Linked DNA regions of Homo sapiens. The protein of the gene in region 1 purifies or fractionates together with the protein of each later gene. This does not show direct contact. Each region holds a gene or a part of one and is shown in the gene's direction. Other genes may lie near its edges.

The links. Proteins that work in one complex are often made in the same cells at the same time.
Region 2: the proteins of SLC26A8 (region 1) and VPS13C purify together in Homo sapiens (affinity purification with mass spectrometry; one large-scale study listed by BioGRID and IntAct). This does not show direct contact.
Region 3: the proteins of SLC26A8 (region 1) and CLPTM1 purify together in Homo sapiens (affinity purification with mass spectrometry; one large-scale study listed by BioGRID and IntAct). This does not show direct contact.
Region 4: the proteins of SLC26A8 (region 1) and RPAP1 purify together in Homo sapiens (affinity purification with mass spectrometry; one large-scale study listed by BioGRID and IntAct). This does not show direct contact.

The regions. Positions count from the first base shown.
Region 1 is NC_000006.12:35,954,431-35,959,414, reverse strand, and holds part of SLC26A8 (testis anion transporter 1), read left to right. Parts: intron 1-3,894; coding exon 3,895-4,263; intron 4,264-4,984. UniProt on the Homo sapiens protein: Antiporter that mediates the exchange of sulfate and oxalate against chloride ions across a membrane. Stimulates anion transport activity of CFTR.
Region 2 is NC_000015.10:61,920,644-61,925,210, reverse strand, and holds part of VPS13C (intermembrane lipid transfer protein VPS13C), read left to right. Parts: intron 1-2,448; coding exon 2,449-2,814; intron 2,815-3,177; coding exon 3,178-3,264; intron 3,265-4,563; coding exon 4,564-4,567. UniProt on the Homo sapiens protein: Mediates the transfer of lipids between membranes at organelle contact sites. Necessary for proper mitochondrial function and maintenance of mitochondrial transmembrane potential.
Region 3 is NC_000019.10:44,978,617-44,983,183, forward strand, and holds part of CLPTM1 (putative lipid scramblase CLPTM1), read left to right. Parts: intron 1-4,567. UniProt on the Homo sapiens protein: Involved in GABAergic but not glutamatergic transmission. Binds and traps GABAA receptors in the endoplasmic reticulum (ER).
Region 4 is NC_000015.10:41,533,954-41,538,520, reverse strand, and holds part of RPAP1 (RNA polymerase II-associated protein 1), read left to right. Parts: intron 1-1,319; 5' UTR 1,320-1,395; coding exon 1,396-1,576; intron 1,577-1,871; coding exon 1,872-2,020; intron 2,021-2,302; coding exon 2,303-2,392; intron 2,393-2,888; coding exon 2,889-3,009; intron 3,010-3,585; coding exon 3,586-3,807; intron 3,808-4,567. UniProt on the Homo sapiens protein: Forms an interface between the RNA polymerase II enzyme and chaperone/scaffolding protein, suggesting that it is required to connect RNA polymerase II to regulators of protein complex formation.

The DNA.
Region 1 (4,984 bases):
AACAAGTACACTAGTCATTTCTTAAAAAAAAAATCAAAACCTCTAAGGGATTTTGACTTTTAGATGGACCATGAAGAATTCAGAAATTAAGATACAAGGTTCCTCTCACCTTGGAGGCTTGACTGAAAAAAAAAAGGCACAAGATTCCCCCTTGAGGTTCAGGTTTTCACAAGAAAGTAGGTGGGAAGTGTTCTGACTTCTACTGGTTGAACAGTGACCAGAGAACAGTTTGCCTGTTGAGACTGTAATTCTGTAGTTGCACCTATTTCCCTGGCTCTTAGCGGCCAAGCTTTAGATTTCTGAAAATAAGTGACTTAAAGATTGTTTTCTGATTCCAACTAGGGCAAGGTCAAGGTTGCTGGGCTTCTCAAGGATCTGCCAGGGTCTCCTGATGTCTTCCTATGGCCAAGAAAATGATGATGGGAGATGGGGGAAAGGAGCGGGGAGGATGAGCACAGGCCGCTATTTCAGATGGGAATTTTACAGCATTTGGAGGTTATTTTTACTGATGAGAATTACAAAGTGTTCATTATTTCCAAACTGGACTTGATCTAAGTAGTCCCTTCCCCCAGAGCAGGATTGCTCATTTCTAGCTTTTGGGTCTTTCGGCAATCACCTAGTCTACAGCACTCACTCTGGAGGGGCAGCTCTCTCTATACACAAAGATTTACATCCTCCCCCGCAACACACACACACAAATGCCTCCACCCGCCATGCAGGTGCTTGCAAAACCCTGAGCATCCACTCTTGTTCCCATACATTCTAATGGAGCATAGGTTCCACTGAGCTACTGAGAAGGGGTTTCACCATGTTGGCCAGGCTAGTCTCGAACTCCTGACCTCAGGCAATCCACCTGCCTCAGTCTCCCAAAGTGCTGGGATTACAGGGGTGAGCACCATACCTGGCTTGTTTTTTTCTTTCATAATAGTGGTATATCTTAAGATTGACAAAATAGCATAGTGAATCATGCAATATAGCATATAGCTGTCTTTTAAATTGTATGTTTAGATTCTAACAGCCCCAAGTAGCTGGGATTACAGGTACATGCCACCATGCCTGGCTAATTTTGTATTTTTAGTAGAGATCGGGGTTTCACCATATTGGTCAGGCTGGTCTCGAACTCAAGACCTCAGGTGATCCACCTGCCTTAGCCTCCCAAAGTGCTGGGATTACAGGCGTGAGCCACCACACCCAGCTAGATTCTAACAGCTCTTAAGACATCAAGTAAGGGGAGATTGGCATGAGCTCAAAAGTCAGAAAAACTTTGTGGTAGCATCAGCCTGTGCTGGGAAATTTATGAGAGAATTTTAGATTGAAGTTGGGTAGGAAAAAAGAGGATTCCCAGTCCATGGACAGGCTTCGACAAAGACACCAAGGTAGAAATAAACGTGGGGCTCTTAGGATAGAGGCTTAGCCTGGGAAGTAAGGTCAGGCAGATAACACATGAGGGGATTGTAAGAAAGATAAGAACGTAGAGTAGATGGAGGAGAGAAAAGAAGGATCTCGGATGGCCAGGCGCAGTGGCTTACGCCCGTAATCCCAAAACTTTGGGAGGCCGAGGCAGGCGGATCACCTGGGGTCAGGAGTTCGAAACTAGCCTGGCCAACATGGTGAAACCCTGTCTCTACTAAAAATACAAAATTAGCCCAGCATAGTGGCTCATGCCTGTAATCCCAGCTACTCGGGAGGCTGAGGCAGGAGAATCGCTTGAACCCAGGAGGCGGAAGTTCAGTGAGCCAGAATCTGTGCCACTGCACTCTAGCCTGGGCAACAAGAGCAAAACTCCATCTCAAAAAAAAAAAAAAAAAGGTGGCTCTCAGAGAATTCCCTCTGCCTAGAGGAGCTCACATCTCCCTGCCACTGAGCCAACCCTGGCCTGTTCCCCAAATGCCTGGCCCCAGTGACCTCAAGCCTTGGGAACAGCTCTCTCCTTTGAACTGCAAACTGCAGCATTATCATCTATCCACACCACTTTTCTTTTCTTTTCTGCTATACAATATATACTACCTCATATTGTTTTTAGCTTTAAATTTTTAAAATTTATTTCACAAGCAACATTGTTAGAATAACATTAAAAAAAAAAATAGAAACATCACCCAGAATTACACCACTCTAGCAAAGGAATTCTTCTCATTATTCCTTGTGCTTTATAGTTCTCATCCATATATATTCTTACTTATCCTTTTTATTTTGAGACGGAGTTTCACTCTTGTTACCGGGGCTGGAGTGGGATGGTGCGACCTTGGCTCACCACAAACTCTGCTTCCTGGGTTCAAGCAATTTTCCTGCCTCAGCCTCCCGAGTAGCTGAGATTACAGGCATTTACCACCCTGTCTGGCTAATTTTGTATTTTTAGTAGAGACGTGGTTTCTCCATGTTGGTCAGGCTGGTCTTGAACTCCCAACCTCAGGTGATCTGCCTGTCTCGGCCTCCCACAGTGCTAGGATTACAGGCGTGAGGCACACCCCCAGCTTTTGTTTTTTTTTTTTTCTTTTGAGATGGAGTTTTGCTCTTATTGCCCAGGCTGGAGTGCAATGGCACAATTTCAACTCCCTGCAACTTCTGCCTTCTGGGTTCAAGCGATTCTCCTGCCTCAGCCTCCTAAGTAGCTGGGATTACAGGCATGCACCACCACACCTGGCTAACTTTGTATTTTTAGTAGAGATGGAATTTCGCCATGTTGGTCAGGCTGGTCTCGAACTCCTGACCTCAGATGATCCACCCACCTCAGCCTCCCAAAGTTCTGGGATTACAGGTGTGAGCCACCATGCCTGGCCTTACTTATCCCTTCAATGAACGTGTGCACACTGCCAGGTAGAGTCTGGTTCCTGTAAATGCAGAGTCCACATTTGCATCCTGCACATCATTGTGTTCCTGGTCCTTGTTACTGTCCTTAAGCTATAGCAGGCAGTCTGGGCCTTTAGGAGGTTGACAGCAGTGGTAAAGACAGCCTTGCTCATGTAATTTTTTTTTTTTTTTTTTTTTTGGACATAAGGTCTTGCTCTGTTGCTCAATCTGGAGTGTGGTGGTGTGGTCACAGCTCACTGCAGCCTCAACCTCCCAGCTTCAAGCGATCCTCTCACCTCAGCCTCCTGAGTACCTGGGACAATAGGCGTGTGCCAGCTTTTTTTGGGGAGGGGGCAGGGGGGCACGACAGGGTCTCACTGTGTCACCCAGGCTGGAGTGTGCACTGGTGCAATCTTGGCTCACTGCAACCTTCATCTCCCAGGCTCAAGCAATCCTCCCACCTCAGCCTCCCCAGTAGGTGGGGCTACAGGCTCACTGACACGCCCAGCTATTTTTATTCTTATTTATTTTTTATTGTTTTGTATTTTTTGTAGAGACAGATTTTTGCCATGTTGCCCAGGCTGGTTTCAAACTGCTGAGCTCAAGGGATCCACCTGCTTTGACCTTCCAAAGTGCTAGAATTATAGGCATGAGCCACTGCACCCAGCCTTCAAGTGCTTTTTGTCTTAAGGAAGTCTGAAAGGAGACTGTTGCACTGATGAAGGAAGAGGGTGCTGAGACAAGGGACTGATGGGAAAAAAATACTTCACACAAAGTATTAGTAGGCACTGGAGACTAACTAGGACCCAAGCATGAGGAAAAGGAGTAAAAGATGTTTTAAGTCTGGCTCACTGGGACAGTGATGAACATCAGAAGTTGGGAGGGGGGTGTCGTGGGTGGTGAAGATGAGGAAAGATGACTGTGGGGGCTTCAGTTGTGAGCTTGAAGTGACAGATATCCAAGTAAAAAATGCACAGTACCTACTCTCGGGAGAAGTTTCATGAGAGAGGGACATGAGCTGGCAGAGACAAGAAATAGCATCGTTGCAAGTCCTTCCGGCCCTTGTTGGTGTCTTACCACAGCCCTCCCTTAACTCTGTCGTCCCAGATTCTTTACACAGAGCGATTTGAAAATAAACTGGATCCCGAAGCATCCTCCATTAACCTGATTCACTGCTCACATTTTGAGAGCATGAACACAAGCCAAACTGCATCCGAAGACCAAGTGCCATACACAGTATCGTCCGTGTCTCAGAAAAATCAAGGGCAACAGTATGAGGAGGTGGAGGAAGTTTGGCTTCCTAATAACTCATCAAGAAACAGCTCACCAGGACTGCCTGATGTGGCGGAAAGCCAGGGGAGGAGATCACTCATCCCTTACTCAGATGCGTCTCTACTGCCCAGTGTCCACACCATCATCCTGGATTTCTCCATGGTACACTACGTGGATTCACGGGGGTTAGTCGTATTAAGACAGGTAAGTACTGAGGAGGCCTTGGCAGGAGCTCTGATCCCCCTCCTACCATCCCAACCCCACCCTGATCCTGATTGAATTCTGTTAGTCACTGATCAGCTGCTATGAGACTGCTAGGCCACCAGAGCCTTGGACACCAAAGGCAGTACAATATAAGGTCAATCAAAATAAAAAGAGAATGAACCAATTCTTTTTTCTTTTTTCTTTTTTGAGATGGAGCCTCACTCTGTTGCCCAGGCTGGAGTGCAGTGGCACAATCTTGGCTCACTGCAACCTCCACCTCCCAGGTTCAAGAGATTCTCCTGCCTCAGCCTCCTGAATAGCTGGAACTACAGGCATGTGTCACTACGCCCTGCTAATTTTTGTATTTTTGGTAGAGACGGGGTTTCACCATGTTGGCCAGGTTGGTCTCAAACTGCTAACCTCAAGTGATCCGCGCACCTCGGCCTACCAAAGCTCTGGGATTACAGGCGTGAGCCACCATGCCCAGCCTAAAATGAACCAATTCTGATGTATTGAGCTGCGGTTGGTTTGGTAAGCATAAAACATTATTATTTCTCAAGAAATGAAAAACAGGACACTCTGAACTTCACTGAAACAGCAATCTGTGCCACGCCCAGTAACTCCCAGAACATCCTGGGAGTCAGCTGCAAATCTCTTCAAGGAATAGGTCTGAATGCTTCAGAAAAAAAGCAGCTCACCAGGAATTCTCCACAGTTCAGCT
Region 2 (4,567 bases), on another chromosome or scaffold:
ATTTGCATGCGTGTGTTGTGGGGGTTGAGTTGGAGGAGGGAAGAGATATGGGGTGGGAAGAGAAGGGAAGAAGGGATGGAGAGAAGAGGTTGTTATTACTTTATTTGTAATAAGTTCTTTTTAGGCTTTTATTTGATGTATAAGTTGATTGAATTTAATAACTATATGATTTGGCTTCAAATATTTATAATGACAGATGTACACTAGAAATAATTATTGGAGTTTACTGTTTTATTCACTACATTTAAAGCATTGAAAAACAATTATTGTTTTCCAATGGCGTTCAGGTTCTTTAAGTATACCTCGTGCCCAGTCACGAATAGAAGATATAGAATACTTTCTGCAATCTATTTCTCTGTTTGCACAAAGGATACAAAAATGAGTCCTTTTTTGGTTAATTGGTTAATGCCAATAATGGTAGTAGCTTTACTTATATAGGTCCGTGACCAACAGTGATTGAACTAAGGCTCAAACTCATTTCATTTGAAGTACCATGTAAATATCAATTTAGTTTTTTCTCAATATTTTAAAATACTGGATAGTCTTAGAATGTATATTGTTAATGGATTTACTTTTAAAAATATATAAAGTAGTAAATGAGGGAAAAACTCCTCGAATTTGCATATTTTAAAGCACTAGGTTAGGTGCTGGTGAGACTTTACATTCTTTGTGTATAAATTTATGATTGATTCAAAAAACGTTTTTGAGCTTTTACTGTGTATTAAAAAAATGTCCTTTACAAGGCATTGGGGATATGTAGCCCCTGCTGTCAAAAAACTTAATGACATATGCGGGAGAAAGAAAGAAATCAGTGATTACAGCTTTCAGTGCTAGAGGCATGGCCAAGATGCAGTTGGGAGCACAGGCATGGGGCCTTTAATTCAGACCAGGACATCAGGGAAAGCTGTGTAGAAGCAGGACTATTTGATTTGAGTTTTGAAGGGAGATTAAATAGATGGGGAGCATGGAAAGGTTTATCCAGACAGAACTGATAATATGCACAAAGGCAGAGGTGTGAAAAAATCCTTTAAGATTTAGAGGGGTGGCCGGGCGCGGTGGCCTCACGCCTGTAATCCCAGCACTTTGGGAGGCCGAGGCGGGCGGATCACGAGGTCAGGAGATCGAGACCATCCCGGCTAAAACGGTGAAACCCCGTCTCTACTAAAAAATACAAAAAATTAGCCGGGCGTAGTGGCGGGCGCCTGTAGTCCCAGCTACTTGGGAGGCTGAGGCAGGAGAATGGCGTGAACCCGGGAGGCGGAGCTTGCAGTGAGCCGAGATCCCGCCACTGCACTCCAGCCTGGGCGACAGAGCGAGACTCCGTCTCAAAAAAAAAAAAAAAAAAAAAAGATTTAGAGGGGTGGTCACATATGGCTGGAGAGAATGGTGTGGTGGCGTTGTAAGACTGGAAGCATTAATTATAAGTGACATTAATAAGACACGGAAAAAAAGTTGACAAGTAAGTTAGGAAAACAATACATACTAGATCCTGCTTTTGATGATATAATTATATCCCTTTACATTTTAAGTAAGGATTGTGAGAAGTGAACAATAAAGGAATACAGTTAACTTATTTAACCTAGTATTTCTCAAACTTTGGGAGAATCCTGGCTAGCTGGTTGAATAGGCACTAGGCCACAAAGAGCTCTGCACATTAAGTTAAAGAGAGTTTCAATTTTATCTTGTGGGATAAAAAAATTATGGGAAGTTGATGAAGATTTTAAACATAAGAATGTCATACTCAGATTTGGTTTGTAGAAAAATTATGCTGGTGGCAGTGTGGAGTGTAGGCTGAGAGGGCGTTGGCCGTAGAAGATGTCATCAGTGTAGAACTAAGGCACAGTAATAGGAAGTGAGGGAAGTGAGCAAAGAAAGGCACTGTCCAAAGATAATAAGAGGTAGGATTTATAGATCTTGGGGTAAGTCAAAGGAGAGCTGTGATTTTGAGTCTTCCAGCTTTAATAAGGCAAATGTATATCTTTTTCTTCCTTTTTTTTTTTTTCAGAAGATCTTGTTGCATACCGATATTTATGTGTATCTTGACAAGGATCACACACTTTGGCTTAGTTAATGTAGCTGTTTTTAAAATGAAGAATTTGTTTACATTGCTATACTTGTCTATTCACATAACACTGTTTTGCTCTGAATTGATCAGCTTAACTTTAGATTTTGACTACTGACATATAACATTAGTTATTTAATTCCAGATAACCTGAGTAGAAGTCAGTGTTGCATGATTACTTGGCTTGACACATAATTTTGTGTTCTCTCTTGTTTTTCTTGGTTACGAATTTATTCAAAATTTAAATTAGTTACTTTAATTTAAAATTAAAATTTAATTTAAAAATGTCACTTATAATTAATGTATGTCACTTAAAATCATGTATGTATATATTCTCATCTGGGAAAGAATTTATTATAAATATTTTTCTGCTTTCTTTTTTAAAGATTTCACCCATAATTCTTAATACTGTGTTGACAATCATGGCTGCATTGTCTCCAAAAACAAAAGAAGATGGATCCAAAGATACGTCTAAGGAAATGGAAAATCTTTGGGGTATCAAATCGATTAATGATTATAACACTTGGTTTCTTGGTGTTGACACGGCAACAGAAATAACGGAAAGCTTCAAAGGCATTGAACATTCACTGATAGAGGAAAATTGTGGTGTTGTTGTAGAATCCATTCAAGTTACCTTAGAATGTGGCCTTGGACATCGAACTGTACCTTTATTATTGGCAGAGTCTAAGTTTTCAGGAAATATTAAAAATTGGACTTCTCTAATGGCTGCTGTTGCTGACGTGACACTACAGGTATGGCCACATCACTTAATACCTTCAGAGACTTCTTGAAAGTGCGATTTTGGAATTAAGATATACACTTTTCTTGTTTGTGCATGGCCACTATGAGTACATATGTGAATAGATAGTGTGTTCTGACATTTAATTTGTCGATGTATTGTTTTTTGATAATTATTTTTTAAAGATTGATTTGCTAAATAATTTATGACAATAGAGTAAGAGAGTAAAGGAAAATACACTCTATATATTGTTAGATGGGTTTTGAAAATGGCTAATGATATATAACATTGATTACTTAATAATTTCCCTATTGGTTACAGAAATATGTAATTAAAGCCAAAGGACTGTCTTATAATTTTGTGTGTATCTTTCCAGGTGCACTATTACAATGAGATCCATGCTGTCTGGGAGCCACTGATTGAGAGAGTGGAGGGGAAGAGACAATGGAATTTAAGGCTTGATGTAAGGAAATCTTAAAATATCTTTGGATAGAATGATACTATGCATATTCATTCATAGTTTTTATTTCAGTGATTCTTAAGATGTGGTCTAGGATCCTTGAAGCCCTTTTAAGGGCTCTGTCCATGAGGTCAGAACTCTTTTCATATGTCATTTTCATTCTCATTCTCTCACGAGTGTATAGTGGAGTTTTCCAGAGACTAATGAAGGTGATACTGCAACAGATTGAATGCAGAACAGAAACGAGAATTTATCTGTCTTCCCTTAAGGCAGGCAGTAAAGAGATATATGTGTATGTTCCTCTTCTCACTGTATTTTTAAAATAGTTATTTTTGATTAAAAATGTTATTTATATTAGCATGTAATTTTTATTTTTAAATGAATTTTTAATTTTTTTTCAGTTTTAATTGTTAATAGAGTACATATTGGTAGATAAAACATAAATGAAGCTCTTTAGTATACTCAGTGATTTTTAAGGGTGAGACCAGAATATTTGAGAATTGTTAATGAACTCTTGTGTGTTATCTTTTTATGTTGTTTTTTGAGAACACCTCAGAAACCTAGATACTGAAGCACATTTTTCTTGATTAAAAGGAACTTGAGTCATATATTGTTAAGAAATTGTCGTAGCATACTTCTTTGGGGCAGCCTTACTAAGGAGTCAGGCACTGAAACTGACTCCACATATTCTTTTGTTAAAGATGAGTCACTTAACCTGTGTTCCAATTTCCTCTCAATAAAGAAGTAATATTTTTCTGACCTGCCTTTCTCTGGCATAGGGAGGCTAACAAAGAATGTTTTACAAGGCTTTTGAAATACTACTAGAACAGAAGCTGATGGAATCTGATGGCTAGTTAAGTGTTTATTATATTAATATTACTTATTTGAAGGTGTTATTGGTTTAAAAAATAGAAGGAGAGAAACATTTCCAGGTGGCACCTCTAATAGGGATCAGTTTAGACTTCAGGGTCCTCTTAGATTGCTCGTCAACACATAATCACCAGTTGGGTGACACTGAATAAATAGCTATGCTCTGAGGAATGCATAAGAGACAAATATTGTAGCTGGCTTTGAGTAATTTCATGGCGTAATTCTAAACTTTTCCCCATGCTTGGACTATACCCTGAAAGAATGAATGCTGAACTCCATGAAATCAAAGTGAAGCATGGTATATTTTTGAAAATAAGACTTTTGCGAAGCATTACTATAAAGTGATCAGTTTAGGAGAACTGAACTCCAGCATTTTTATTTTATTATCAACTGGCTAATAATTTAAATTTGCTGTGTTATTTTTCTTCATAGGTAA
Region 3 (4,567 bases), on another chromosome or scaffold:
AGCAAGTCCACGTCTCTGAAAAAACAATAGTAATAAAAAATAAGACTACCACTTCTACTCCCATGATAACTCATTAATCCATTAAACCACTAATCCATGAATGGGTTAATCAGTTCCTGAGGGGAGGGTCCTCATGACCCAGTCACCTCTTAAAAGCCTCATCTCTCAGTACTGGCACATTGGGGATTAAGTTTCACTGGGAGTGGGGAGTACTAGAGTACATCAGTAGTCCCAGCTACTTGGGAGGCTGAGGTGGGAGAATCAGCATGAGTTTTGGCCAGGACAAACATTCAAACCATAGCATTGTCCGTCCTCTTGTTTTCGAGAAGTTAATAATTGTTGTCATCTTTCTGCTTGCCTGGCTCTTTTTTTTTTTTTTTTTGAGACAGGGTCTCACTATGTCGCCCAGGCTGGAGTGCAGTGGACTATCTCAGCTCACCACAATTTCCACCTCCCAAGTTCAAGCGATTCTCCCACCTTAGCCTCCAAAATAGCTGGGACTACAGGCACACGCCACTACGCCCGGCTAGTTTTTGTATTTTTAGTAGAGACGGGGTTTCGCCATGTTGGCCAGGCTGGTCTCAAACTCCTGACCTCAAGTGATCGTCTGCCTCGGCCTCCCAAAGTGCTGGGATTACAGGTGTGAGCTGCCACACCCAGCCTTGCTTGGTTCTCTGTGAGCTTTTTCCCTGAGTCCTCTGTCTCCTGATGGGCAGCCGTAGAAATCTCTTGCTGTACCTGTTTGAGCGGAGCTGGAGAATGGCTTCCTCAGAAAGCCCCCCATTCTTCTAACGGGAGTTCTGTGTACTCCACCTAGCTTTCACTTTATTGAGGACTATTCCAGACATTCCCTGTGGATTTGGTTAAGATCCATCTGGCTGGTTTTGGGTGGCGCAGCAACAGACAGAATTCTATTTGTATGAGTTAGGTCTTACCTACTTCTTTTAGTACAAAAATATCCTAAAGGATGGTAATTTTTTTTTATCACCTATACTGGATGAAATGAAAAGTTGACTCTATGTGGGTCCCTAGAAATGACTTGGAAAGGTCTTCTGGAGTTACTTGAGCCCCTTTCTGAGTGAGTGTGTCTGAAGAATGTGCTGCGTTGGTATGTCCCACCCGGCTGACGTCCATGTGGTGAGATCTTTGGAGAACCAGGCAGAAGTGGCTTGAGGGGGTGTGACCTACAGGGTTGGTCTCACAGATGTTTCCCTGCAGGGGGATACGTCAGGGGTCTGGGCTAAAATGCCCGATGTTTCAGAGGTCGCTCTGAAGGTGACCCAGGTGGGTGGCTCTTCACCCTATTCTTGTACCCCGTTTGACGATCACCTAATCATCCCGTTGACCCAAATCGATGCCAGTATTTTCTGCAGTTTTGTCTTTGGTGAGTGTGATCCATGTCACTGTGTGGTGAGGTTTATTCACAGTCAGTCTGGTCTGTAAAATAGAACCTGCAGACAGTGAACCTGAAAAGCATACTAGGATCATCCAGGCCTCCCTCCCCAGCCTTGGAGCTGGGACCCTCAAAGCAGGGACATAGAAGGACTTGGAGTGAGCCACCCACAAACTCCAGGGTGAAGGAGAGTGTGAGTTCAGAAAAGCCCCCTTTTGGCTGGTTGTGGTGGCTCATGCCTGGAAACCCAGCACTTTGGGAAGCCAAGGCAAGCAGATCACTTGAGGTCAGGACTTCGAGACCAGCCTGGCCAACATGGTGAAACCCTGTCTCTACTAAAAATACAAAACTTAGCTGGGCATGGTGGCACATGCCTGTAATCCCAGTTACTCGGGAAGCTGAGGTGGGAGAATCTTTTGGACCCCGGAGGCGGAGATTGCAGTGAGCCGAGATCGTGCCACTGTACTCTAGCCTGGGCGACAGAGCAAGACTCCATCTCAAAAAAAAAAAAAAAAAAAGAAAAGAAAAGCCCCTTTTATCCCCAAGAGGCCAATAATCAGTATTCTAGAGCAGCTCCGTCCCATGGAGATAGGATGTGAGCCAGAGAAGGCATTAAAATTTTTCCAATAGAAAAATACTAAAGAGTAAAAAGGTAAAGAGAGGCCAGGCACGGTGGCTCATGCCTGTAGTCCCAGCACTTTGGGAGGCCAAAGTCAGAGGATCGCTTGAGCCCAGGAGTTTGAGGCCAGCCCTGGCAACATAGGGAGACCTCATCTCTACAAAAAAAAATTTTATTTTATTTTATTTATTTTATTTCATTTTATTTATTTATTATTATTTTTTTTTGAGATGAAGTCTTGCTCTGTTGCCCAGGCTGGAGTGCAGTGGTGCAGTCTCGGCTCACTGCAAGCTCTGCCTCCCGGGTTCACGCCATTCTCCTGCCTCAGCCTCCTGAGTAGCTGGGACTACAGGCGCCCGCCACCACGCCCGGCTAATGGTTTTTTTGTATTTTTAGTAGAGACCAGGTTTCACCGTGTTAGCCAGGATGGTCTTGATCTCCTGACCTCGTGATCCACCCGCCTTGGCCTCCCAAAGCACTGGGATTACAGGCATGAGCCAGCGCGCCTGGCCTATTTTATTTTATTTTTTTTTGAGACAGAGTTTCACTCTTGTTGCCCAGGCTGGAGTACAGTGGCATGATCTTGGCTCGCCACAGCCTCCACCTCCCAGGTTCAAGCAATTCTGCCTCAGCCTCCCAAGTAGCTGGGATTACAGTCATGTGTCACCACGCCCAGCTAATTTTGTATTTATAGTAGAGATAGGGTTTCTCCATGTTGGTCAGGCTGGTCTCGAACTCCCGACCTCAGGGGACCCACCTGCCTTGGCCTCCCAAAGTGTTGGGATTACAGGCGTGAGCCAAAAAATTTTTTTAAATTAGCCAGATATGGTGGTGCGCAACCTGTAGTGTCCTCCGACTCAGGAGGCTCAGGTAGAAGGATCATTTGAGTCCAGGAGGTCAAGGCTGCAGTGAACTGTGATCAGGCCACTGCACTTCAGCCTGAGCAACAAAGCGAGACCCTGTCTCAAAAAGAAATATAAATAAAATAATAAAAAGGTAAGGCCAGGGCCGTGATGGCTCACACCTGTAATCCCAGCACTTTGGGAGGCCAAGGCTAGAGGATTGCTTGAGCCTAGGAGTTCGAGACCAGCCTGGGCAACATGGCAAAACCCCCCCTAATAAAAATACAAAAATTAGCCAGGCATGGTGGCACATGCCTGTAATCCCAGCTACTCGGGAGCCTGAGGTAGGAGGATCACCCAAGCCCAGGAGGTTGAGGCTGCAGTGATCACACCACTGCACTCTAGCCTGGATAACAAAAGGAGACCCTGTCTCACAAATAAATAAATAAAAAGGTAAAGAAAAACCATGAGATTAATATCAATAATAGTTTAATTGAGCTCAACATATTCTCGTTTCAACATATGATCAGTATAAAAAGTGAGATATTTTACATTTTTGTTTCCCCTTGTGTCAGTTTTCAGAATCTAGTGTGTGTGACTGGGCACGGTGGCTCACATCTGTAATCCCAGCACTTTGGGAGGTTGAGGCAGGTGGATCACTTGAGGCCAGGAGTTTGAGACCAGCCTGGCCAACATAATGAAACCCCAGCTATACTAAAAATACAAAAATTAGGCGGGCATGGTGGCTAACGCTTGTAATTCCGTCTACTCGGGAGGCTGAGGCAGGAGAATCACTTGAACCCAGAAGGCAGAGGTTGCAGTGAGCTGAAATCGTGCCACTGCACTCTAGTCTGGGCGACAGAGCGAGACTATGTCAAAAAAAAAAAAAAGGGTCTAGCGTGTGTTTTATATCATAGCACTTCTTGGTTTGGACCAGCCATATTTGCAGTGCCCAGTAGCTGCATGTGGCCAGCAACCCTGATACTGGATGGTGCAGCTCTAGAAGATTTTCCTCCAAGAAAGGGGGGCTTTTTCCTCCCCACAGGAGCCAGGTCCATCTGGTCTGGATGCCTCCAAGCTGCAGAATGTGTTCTTTGCCTGAGCCAAAGCCTCTCTCCCCTGTGCCTCCCCCTCCACCAGCCAGCGCTGCCCTCTGGGGCTCTCCCTTCCCTGGACAGTCTCTGTCAGGTGTGGACACGATTGGGGCATGTCCCCCTGGAATTTTCTCCAAGTCAACCCTTGAGTGTTGGTTTCTCCCCCTGGACACAGGAGGAAGATCCCCAATGATTTAATAATCATAGAAATGATGAGGATTGGCCAGGTGGCTCAAGCCTGTAGTCCCAGCAATTTGAGAGGCCGAGGCAGGTGGATCACTTGAGGTTAGAATTTGAGACCAGCCTGGCCAACATGGTTAAACTCCGTCTCTACTAAAAATACAAAAATTGCTGGTCATGGTGGTGGATGCCTGTAATCCCGGCTACTCGGGAGGCTGAGGCAGGAGAATTGCTTGAACCTAGGAGGCAGAGGTTACAGTGAGCTGAAGTCATGCCACTGCTCTCTAGCCTGGGCAACAGAGTGAGACTCCATCTCAAAAAAAAAAAAAAAATGAGGATGACGTTTCTGCTAATAAGCAGTAGGCCCTGGGCCAAGAAGTGGTGAGGCTTTTCTTCCTTCTTTAGGGAAGTGACATCACTCACCAGCATCCCTTAGCTT
Region 4 (4,567 bases), on another chromosome or scaffold:
TTCCTTTTTTATCCTCTAAGCCTCTGATCACTTATCATTGTCAAGGTTGAGCAGACAGAGAAGTGCATACATTCTGCAGCTTGAGTGCCTAACTTGAGATTCTGTTTCTGACATTTACTGTGGATTTGGGGCAATTAAATTAACTTTCTGTGTCAAGTGGGAGGATCACCCAAGCCCAGGAGTTTGAGGCTGTAGTAAGCTATGATAGCAGACTGCACTCCAACCTAGGTGACAGAGTGAGATCCTGTCTGTTTTTTGTTTTGTTTTGTTTTGTTTTTTTGACAGAGTCTCACTCTGTCGCCCAAGCTGGAGTGCAGTGGCTCCATCTCAGATCACTGCAAGCTCCGCCTCCCGGGTTCACGCCATTCTCCTGCCTCAGCCTCCCGAGTAGCTGGGAATACAGGTGCCCGCCACCACGCCCGGCTAGTTTTTTATATTTTTAGTAGAGACGGGGTTTCACCGTGTTAACCAGGATGGTCTTGATCTCCTGACCTCATAATCCACACGCCTTGGCCTCCCAAAGTGCTGGGATTACAGGCGTGAGCCACCGCATCCGGCCAATGCAATTGTTTTCTTAATTCCATTTTCTGCATGTTCTTTGCTAGTGCATAGACATACAATTTTTTTTTTTTTTTTTGAGACGGAGTTTTACTCTTGTTGCCCAGGCTGGAGTGCAATGGTGCAATCTCGGCTCACAGCAACCTCCATCTCCCAGGTTCAAGCGATTCTCCTGTCTCAGCCTCCCAGGTAGCTGGGATTACAGGCGCCCACCACAATGCCCAGCTAATTTTTTGTATTTTTAGTAGAGATGGGGTTTCACCATGTTGGCCAGGCTGGTCTTGAACTCCTGGCCTCAGGTGACCCACCCTCCTCGGCCTTACAAAATGCTGGGATTACGGGCGTGAGCCACTGCGCCTGGCCACAAATGTTTTTTATATTGATATTTTACAGCCCAAGGTTTTTAATAATTTACATACCTTTAGGCCAAGCATGTTCTCTCCAGTTTGATACAGAATCATCACCCCCCCATTATGACAACATTTATCTGCTCGGCCCCTGATGACATTTTCCTCAGGTCTCCTGCTGGTTGTTCCTGAGAGTTTTATCACCTATAGATTGTAAACAACCTAAGTTGGCTATAAATATTGTTGCTAGGCTGATGACATCAGGGAGGGCTGAAGACAGAGGGAATGGCAGTAAGGTATGAATGAGGAGGAATGAGTTCATGTTAACCCAAGGATAAAGAAGATCTTCGCTGTTGCCCAATAAAGAGAATCAGGGTTCAGTTGCAGAGGGCCCATATTCTTTCTTGCTCTTAGGGATGAATAAGAGGGAACCCCCACACGGAGACACTGCTGGAGAGAGTCGTACTGGGGAGGCAGCTGGAGCAGCAAGATGCTGTCGAGACCGAAGCCAGGGGAGTCCGAGGTGGACCTGCTGCACTTCCAGAGTCAGTTTCTCGCAGCTGGTGCAGCCCCAGCAGTGCAGTTGGTGAAGAAAGGAAATAGGGGCGGTGGTGATGCCAACTCAGACCGGCCTCCGCTCCAGGACCATCGGGATGTGGTGATGTTGGACAGTGAGTTCCCATGGATGTGAGGCTGAGAAGTAGAGAGGGTACAGCCTCGGGCCCCTCCCTCTTCCTGTTGTGGTTGGATTCAGACACATCATTATTATTTCAGACACTGCATAGCCTGTGTTTCTGCAGCCCCATTTTACAGAGGAAGAAAATGAGGCTCAAAGAGGTTAAATATCTTACCCAAGATGACACAGCTTGAGCCAGGGCCCCATGGCAGCTGTCTTTCTTCCCTAGCCTGCAGTGTCTTCCTAGGAAGGTGTGCATATACTCACGTTTGGGATCTTTTCTTTCTCAGATCTCCCAGATTTGCCCCCAGCTTTGGTCCCTTCTCCTCCAAAGAGAGCCAGGCCCAGCCCTGGCCACTGCCTGCCTGAGGATGAGGACCCAGAAGAGAGGCTGAGGAGGCATGATCAGCACATCACTGCTGTCTTGACTAAGATTATTGTGCGTCTCACTCTGGCTGAGTAGGATAAGATGTTCTAGGGCAACAGGGATATTGGATGCTCGGGGTGGGTGAGGCTTATCAGTGGAGGGTGCTTCAGAAAGGTAGACTTTTACCCCTGAGGTCAGGTTGGGGGCTGGGTTAGAATCACTGCCCTGAAGGGAGGAGGGTCCGTAACCCCCCAGAGTGAGGTTCTCATCGTTCAGAACTGGGCTAATAGGATCGGGTCCAGCCTGGGGAAGTTTCTCCATTGTGCTTCACAACTTTGTGCTTTGTTGCTACAGGAACGAGATACAAGTTCAGTGGCCGTGAATCTGCCTGTGCCCAGTGGTGTTGCTTTCCCTGCTGTGTTCCTTCGCTCGCGGGACACACAGGTAGGCAAGGGTAAGCTTAGGTGGTGCTCAGGAGACAGACAGGTGAGTCTCATAGTGCATCTTCTCCAGGCAGGTAGTTTTAATGATGATAAGCAATTTAATTTACAAAGCAGGATCATACTAAGCACTTCATACCCATTACTTCTTTTAATCTTCATAACAAACATATAAGGCAGGTATCATGATGATACCTTGGGGATGAGGAGTCCTTATTCCCATTTTTCATATGAGGAAACTGAGACCCCAAAGAGATAAATAACTTGTCCAACACCACACATCTAATAGGTAGAAGAGCCAGAACTTCAACCCAAGTCTGTCAGAGTCTAAGACCTTTACTCTTATAGACCTCTCCTTTTTCTGAGAACTAGGGTTGTGATCCCTGGAAATTGAGCAAATCCCCTTTTATCTCTTTGTTCCAGAGGCCTTGATATAAAGAGGTTGAGAGGAAAGTGGGATGATGAGCATCAGTAACCTGGGTTTTCTTTTTGCCCCACAGGGGAAATCAGCAACATCTGGTAAGAGAAGCATCTTTGCCCAGGAAATTGCGGCAAGGAGGATAGCTGAAGCCAAGGGCCCATCAGTTGGGGAAGTTGTGCCCAACGTGGGCCCACCAGAGGGTGAGCCGGGGTTGAAGAGGATTGGGCTTGGCCTTTTTAAAAGACACAATCATAGGGTCATTTTTGAAGATATGTCTTCCTGCCTCAAATGAGAGGTGCATTTGAGCCATCTCAAGTAGTCTGAGAATACTAGGTATGGGAGGCTTGGGTCCATATCTGGGTCTCAGGTGCTGGGAGTGGGGCAGGCCATTATGCAGTCCTAAGAGAAAGGGAATAGGGCAGAAGTGTCTGGCAGAGACTGTAAAATAAATGTGTTGGCCAAGATCCCTTTAATGATGCAAATTATTAGCTTAACAGCTGGGAGCAGGCCCCTGGCTATAGATGCCTGCCTAGATATCTAAGAGGAGTCAGAAATTAGGATGTTTCTGAGGAAAACCTTTTCATATAAGTACTAGGGAAGCAGTGAGTGGAGAAGCCACCTGGAGTCCCTGTGCCAGACCCAGTGGGGTCTCCACTCTGAGGAAAGTTTGGGTCTATACCTGTCTCCAGGGCTAATAGCCTTATAGAAGAAGGCCAAAAAGCCCAGTTAGAGCCCTGGAGGACAGAGCAATGAATGTGATCATACCTTTCTTCCAGGTGCCGTGACCTGTGAGACACCCACTCCTAGGAACCAGGGCTGCCAGCTTCCTGGGAGCAGCCACAGCTTTCAGGGACCCAATCTGGTCACAGGGAAGGGGCTCAGGGATCAAGAAGCTGAGCAGGAAGCCCAGACTATCCATGAAGAGAACATAGCAAGACTGCAGGCCATGGCTCCTGAGGAGATCCTGCAGGAACAGCAGCGGTTGCTGGCCCAGCTTGGTATGGGTGCCTGGCTTTCCTGCTGAGACCAGGCTAGGAGAGGAATACCACTTATTGAGCTAGGCTTACTGTGAGTTCCGGGCACTGTGCTGAGTACTTTAATGCTTTTTTTTTTTTTTTTTTTTTTTTTGAGATGGTCTTGCTCTGTCACCCAGGCTGGAATGCAGTGGCACGATCTCGGCTCACTGCAACCTCCACCTTCACGGCTCAAGCAATCCTCCCACTTCAGCCTCCTGTGTAGCTGGGATTATAGGCACACACCACCACACTCAGCTAATTTTTTTTTTTTTTTGGGGGGACAGAGTTTCACTCTTGTTGCCTAGGCTGGAATGCAATAGCACAATCTCGGCTCACCACAACCTCCGCCTCCCGGGTTCAAGAGATTCTCCTACCTCAGTCTCTCGAGTAGCTGGAATTACACGCATCTGCCACCACGCCCAGCTAATTTTTTTATTTTTAGTAGAGGTAGGGTTTCTCCATGTTGGTCAGGCTGGTCTCGAACTCCCAACCTCAGGTGATCTGCCCTCCTCGGCCTCCCAAAGTGCTAGGATTACAAGCATGAGCCACCATGCCCGGCCTTTTTTTTTTTTTGAGATGGAGTTTCGGTCTTGTTGCCCAGGTTAGAGTGCAATGGCGCGACGTAGGCTCACTGCAACCTCCGCCTCCTGGGTTCAAATGATTCTCCTGCCTCAGCCTCCTGAGTATCTGGGATTACAGGTGCCCACCACCATACCCAACTAATTTTTGTATTTTTAGTAGA